Linked DNA regions of Homo sapiens: region 1 is linked to region 2. A link means that fine-mapping ties the variant in region 2 to the expression of a gene that starts in the linked region. Tissue or cell type: whole blood. Region 2 holds a variant in brackets; the other region holds the start of a gene. All regions are shown on one strand. Distances are between the middles of the regions.

What was found. PIP is the estimated chance that this variant, and not a neighbour inherited with it, causes the effect.
Region 1: DRC1 starts here. The variant in region 2 is fine-mapped to the expression of DRC1 in whole blood (TOPMed, PIP above 0.99).

What each region holds. Positions count from the first base shown.
Region 1 is chr2:26,400,581-26,403,336 of GRCh38, forward strand. DRC1 (dynein regulatory complex subunit 1) reads left to right here and starts at 1,340. Exons shown (of 17, transcript NM_145038.5): 1 at 1,340-1,564. The coding sequence starts at 1,410.
Region 2 is chr2:26,454,732-26,457,462 of GRCh38, forward strand. DRC1 (dynein regulatory complex subunit 1) reads left to right here. Exons shown (of 17, transcript NM_145038.5): 15 at 1-59; 16 at 400-502; 17 at 1,730-1,980. The coding sequence ends at 1,786. It overlaps OTOF (otoferlin), which reads right to left. Exons shown (of 47, transcript NM_194248.3): 47 at 2,472-2,731. Among named protein-coding and RNA genes, the nearest start is that of DRC1, 54 kb to the left of the region's middle. The variant CGT/C (reference allele first, on the strand shown) is at 1,209.

The sequences.
Region 1 (2,756 bases), 54 kb before region 2:
TCAGAGCTGTATCATGGCTCCTAGGAGAGTTTAATACTTTAGGTTTCAACCAAAGGAGACAGAGATCTGGCAGAAGGCCCTGAAGCCTAGAAGCAAGTACCCCCGCTCCTACCACCACCACCTAGGCAGGTGTGAGACAAGGATCCAGGCAGCTGCTGTTAGACTCTATAGCTGTTGGATGGTTTTGGCATTCCTAAACCTCTCTACTGCTTGCAAACGTGGAAGAACTGATTTTAAAAACCCACTCCATTTGCCTCTGGGCAGTTCTTACTCACAAAGGACGGGTCGTCTTGGCCGCACAGTTGTCTGTGGGTTGCATCATTTAACAGCTGAGAAAATGCTCCTCAAGAAGTTGTGACTTGCCCAAGGTGGCAGGGCAGGGCTAGGACTAGTACTCACCCTTTCTCACTGCTCATCCAGTGCCCTTAATTCCCCACGGGCTAATGGGACAGAACCCTGTTAAATGGTATCCAGTTTTTGTTTGGTTGGTTGGTTGGGTTTTTTTGAGACAGAGTCTTGCTCTATTGCTCAGGATGGAGTGCAGTGGCTCGATCTCGGCTCACTGCAACATCCACCTCCCAGATTCAAGCGATTCTCCTGCCTCAGCTTCCCGAGTAGCTGGGATTATGGGTGCCCACCACCATACCCAGCTAATTTTTGTATTTTTAGTAGAGACGGGGTTTCATCATGTTCACCAGGCTGGTCTCAAACTCCTGACCTCAAGTGATCTGTCCACCTCGGCCTCCCAAAGTGTTGGGAGGCTGAGGCATGAGCCAGCGCGCCAGGTTTTAATTCTCAATGAGAACACTATTTTTGTTGACAATGAGACGCCCAGAAGATAGCGCCTTTCTGGGGACAGTTGAGAATTTAATAGTGCTTCCGCATTTCTAACTTTTATCCCTCCCCCCTCCCACGGACTGTTTTCCTCTATTCCACTTTTCCTCTTTCATAAGTATTTGATTGCAGGTTGGTATCCTGTATCCAAGCACAGCGCTTGGCATCGAGTAGGCGCTCAATTTTATTTGGTGAATATGAGTTGGAGGAATATTTGATGAATGAATGGAAGATGAATTAATCATCAGGGTCAGCAAGTGATGAACCACAACTTGGTCCAGTTCTTTAGTCCTCTAGTCTCCTGGTGAGACTCCACAGCTCCGCTAACACGACCGGGCCTTCGTGGGCCTGACAACAGACCTGACATCCCACGGGCGGGAGAGGCGTCAGCCCGAGGCTGGGATGCTCGGCCGGAACGGCGGCTGGCGGCAGGCTGGGCCCAGGGAGCTGCGCGCGCAACCACTCGGGCTGTGGCTCCGGTGACCGCTCTCCCTGGCAACGGTTTGTTCCTAGCAACCAGCCTGAGGTCTGGAGGTGGTGCGGAGGGAGCCGCCTAGGGACCAGGGACTCCTGCCATGAATCCGCCGGGGTCCCTAGAGGCCCTGGACCCGAACGTGGACGAGCACTTGTCCACCCAGATTCTCGCGCCCTCGGTCCACTCCGACAACTCTCAGGAGCGCATCCAGGCCCGGCGCCTCCGCATCGCTGCGCGCTTAGAAGCCCGGAGGCGGTGAGCGCGGGGGCGGGCGGGGCGGGATCCGCGCCGCAGGAGCCGGAGAAGGGCTGGTTTCCTGATGAAATAGAAACATTTCTTCGGGAAGGTTCAGGCAGAGTATGGGAAAGTAAAACGCTGGGCCGGTGCCGTGGCGCGCGCCTGTCATCCCAGCACTTAGGGAGGCCGAGGCGGGCCGATCACTGGAGCCCAGGAGTTGGAGATGGTCAACCTGGGCAGCATAGAGAGACCCCATCTCTATAAAACATCAAACAATTAATCGGGCGTGGTGGCGTTCGACTGTGGTCTGCACATGGCATCTTTTCCACTACGGACACCTCCAAACCACAGGGTCTGCTGGATCATGTGGCCCAAGTAGCCTGGCTGCTTACACTGTGGCCTGGGTCCTTTCTTGTTCCAGGCACCACTCAAAGCTGGCAGCTTTTTGTGTCAGCCTGAATAATATTCCTAAGTGCGGGATGTATTGTCTCTAGGACCCAAAGTGGCCTAAGAGGCATTGAGTTTCCTTCTCTGTAGAGGATGCAAAATGCAGTAGATTTGTTTTTTACTTGATAGGCTATCCCAGCATCCCACTGACCACTGGACCCCTACAAACTTGAATGACATGGCAGTCCCTGGGCCTTCATAGGGTTGATTGCCCACCGTCTGGAGCACACATGTCTTACCAAGCCCTGCAGTGTGTTTCCATCACTCGCTCACCCTGGCTGATTGCTGCGGGGCCATCAGTGGAATGCAGGGGCCGGCAAACCCTTTCAGTAAAGGGCCAAATAGTAAATATTTTAGGCTTTTCGGATCATATGGCCTCTTTCCTAGCTGCTCAATTGCCATTGTATTGCAAAAGCAGCCACAGGCAAGACATAAACAAATGGGCATGACTGTGTTCCAATAAAGCTTTATTTATGGACACTGAAATTTGAATTTCATATACTGTTCATGTATCACAAAATAGCCTTCTTTTGATAAAAAATAATAATAAACTTTATTTTTTAGAGCAGTTTTTAGGACCACAGCAAAACTGATCAAAAAGTATAGCATTCGCATATACTCCCTGCCCCCACACATGCACAGCTACTGTCAACATCCTGCACTGGAGGGCACATTTGTAACAATATATGAACCTTGGCGCATCGTTATCACTTGAACTCCATTGTTTACCTTAGGGTTTCTTTTTGGTGTTGTACATCCTATG
Region 2 (2,731 bases):
ATCCCTTCCTCCAAGCAGAACCTCTGGGATGCCCTCTACACAGCCTTGGAGAAGTACCAGTAAGTGTGCATGTCATGGAGCAGGAGGGTGCTGGCGGGCAGGTGAGGAACGGTTGTTGGGAGCAGCCGCGTTTGCTGCCTCCCTGTCCCACTGAACCTGGGAGGGAAGAGCTGCCCTTGGCATCTCCTGTGTGGGTGGATCATGTGGGGCAGTTGGCTCTTGGGCCCTGGCCTGCCTGTTCTGTTCCTGCTAACCTGGCTCACCTGGCGGCTGGGTGAAGAGTGTAGCTTCTGGAGTCTCCCTCCACCTGTAGCCAAAGTACAACCACCAAGACCCTGGCCCCTACTTGGCAGAGGATGGAGGATTCAGTGAGCCTCTAACCGATTTTTCTGTCCAAAGCCTTGTCCTGACCCAGAGGGCCAAGCTGCTGCTGGAAAACAGTTCTCTGGAGCAGCAGAACACAGAGCTGCAGGCGCTACTGCAGCAGTATCTGAACTCCAAGGTGGGCGGCGGGGCCTTCCAAGGAGGGGCAGCGGGAGACACGGGTGGGGCAGGGGCACTGGAGCTGGGATTAGGGAACGAGGAGTCCCCTCCCCGTCAGAGGCAAGGGAGCTTTGTGATATGATGTAAAAAATCAAGAGTGGCACCTTGAGACAACTACTGGCCAAAGGAGTAGATCTTGCCTGAAGTCTCCTCCAGGACAGCTCAGGTGTGACAGTGTCTCTTTGATACTGTGGTTTCTGGTGCCAGTGGCCAGCTGGGACTGCTCTGTGTGAAGCAGTGCCACAGCCAGGAGCAGCTCCCCAGCTACAGAGCCTCCAGCTGTGCTCTCTTCTTCCATCCTCACACCCGCTGTGTGAGGTGGACAGGGCGGAAACAATGCTCCTCATTTCACACAAAGGACAATCACAACTTGCAGAGTTTGCAACTCGTCCAGAGCCTGGGCTCTTTCCACCCACCAGCCCCGGTTCCCTGCCTGGGATATGACTGGAGGGTCATCCTCGCATGGGGAAGGAGGCTCTGCTGGGGCAGATATTCCCTGGCCCCCATCTGTGCCCAACCCTGCAATAGTTGTGGACAACTTCCCCATGGCCTGGCAAGAGGAGGAAGGAAAAAGTCCATTGCTGACATTTCCTGCTCTGCGGGTGTGGGCACCTGCAGCTGGGGCTGTAGGCCAGGAAGGTCGTGACGCAGCTGTTAGTTGCACA[CGT/C]GTGAGGTGACTGAGGCCAGCTCCAAGTCCAGCCACAGGGGCTGCGTGGCCCCAGCACAGTCCCAGGTCCCAGGCCACAGCTGAAAGTGGGATGTTGTAGTGAACCTTGGCCTCATAATGACCCTTGGCCTGTGACAGGACCCAGACATTCTGGACGGTATGGTTCCCGCTTCCACAGATGCTACTGTATACAAGAGGCTGGGGGAGGAAGAGGTGGGGCAGGCTAGATTGGGGATGGCATGGGTGCGTGGAGAGAGGAGAGGGGAAGACTGCAGAGAATGGACGGGCGGGAGATGAAGAACGCTACCAGAGGTCACAGCTGGAGCAGAAGCTGAGCAAGAAGGCTCAGGCGTGTCTCCTGCAGGGAGGCAGTCTGTGGGTGTTCAGCATCTCTCAGCTTTGGAGAGGAGATGCGTGCAGGGCTTTGGAGGCCCATGGGAGAGCCAGCGTGGCTCGCAAGGGTGGCAAAGAAGGAGGGCCCTGGGAAAAATGTAACGACTTTCACCCTTTCTTTTCCAGATCAACTCTGAACTGCAAGTTCCTCCCACTCAGGTGTTGCGGGTACCCACAAAATGAGCTGGACCGCCAAAGGCTGATGTGTTAGGGCTGGCCTGATGCTGGTGTCTGTGCCGGAGCCAGCTCATATCACCCACTGGGCCGCACCTGGGCCTGCTCTCTGGATTTTCCAGGGCTGTCTTTATAGCCTGTCGAAATAAGGAGCCAGAGGAGTTACCTGTGTCCTGCATTATGATTAAAGCCTTTTAAAGTTGTGGCTGAATCTCTTTAAAGAGGTCAGGTCTAGCAAGACCAGGCCCTTGCCCCTACCTCTGTGTCATGAGGGGACTTTGCCCCAGGCTCAGATAGTGGTGTGAGTCAGAGGCCGAGGCCAGTAGCGTGGGGCTCCTTTCTTGCTTTCAGGGGAACTGGTTTCTGTGGGTGGAGGCTAGAGCTTTTGGGCCCTTGTGGGGCCTTAAGCCTTCAGACTGGCCCCAGACCTGAAGGATTCTTTCGGTGCTTTGGGGGCCCCTGGGCCCAGGCTGGTGTGCCCTTTGGGCTATGGTGTAAGACTCCTCCTGTGGGCAGCCTGGGTGGGCAGCCCTGTGCCTGAGGCCTGCCTTGAACCCTGGGCCACCAGAGGCCACTTGAAGGGGAAAGGCCATGGGAGCCCTGCTGGTACTGAATCTGCCAGCCTAGAGAACTGCTGCCTCTGCCCCGCACCTGCGGCTGCTCCTCTCAGCTTGACCAGTGCAGACCTGTCAGCTCAGTGCTTGACTTCTTTTATTTAGAGAAAAATCACCACTCAAGAAAAGAAAAACAGCCAACAGAAACCCAGACACAGGCAGGGGCAGCACTTGACGGGCCAGCTCCCAGCTGCAGCTGAAAGGGCTGGAAGGGCAAGGGGGCAGGGGTGGGAGGACAGGGTGTGCCCGGGATGGGGAGTCCCCTCTGCTGCTTCTCACAGCTCCTCAGCTGGGCCTGGAGGCGCTGGCTGGGGCAGAGGGAGCTCTGGGAAGCCATGGA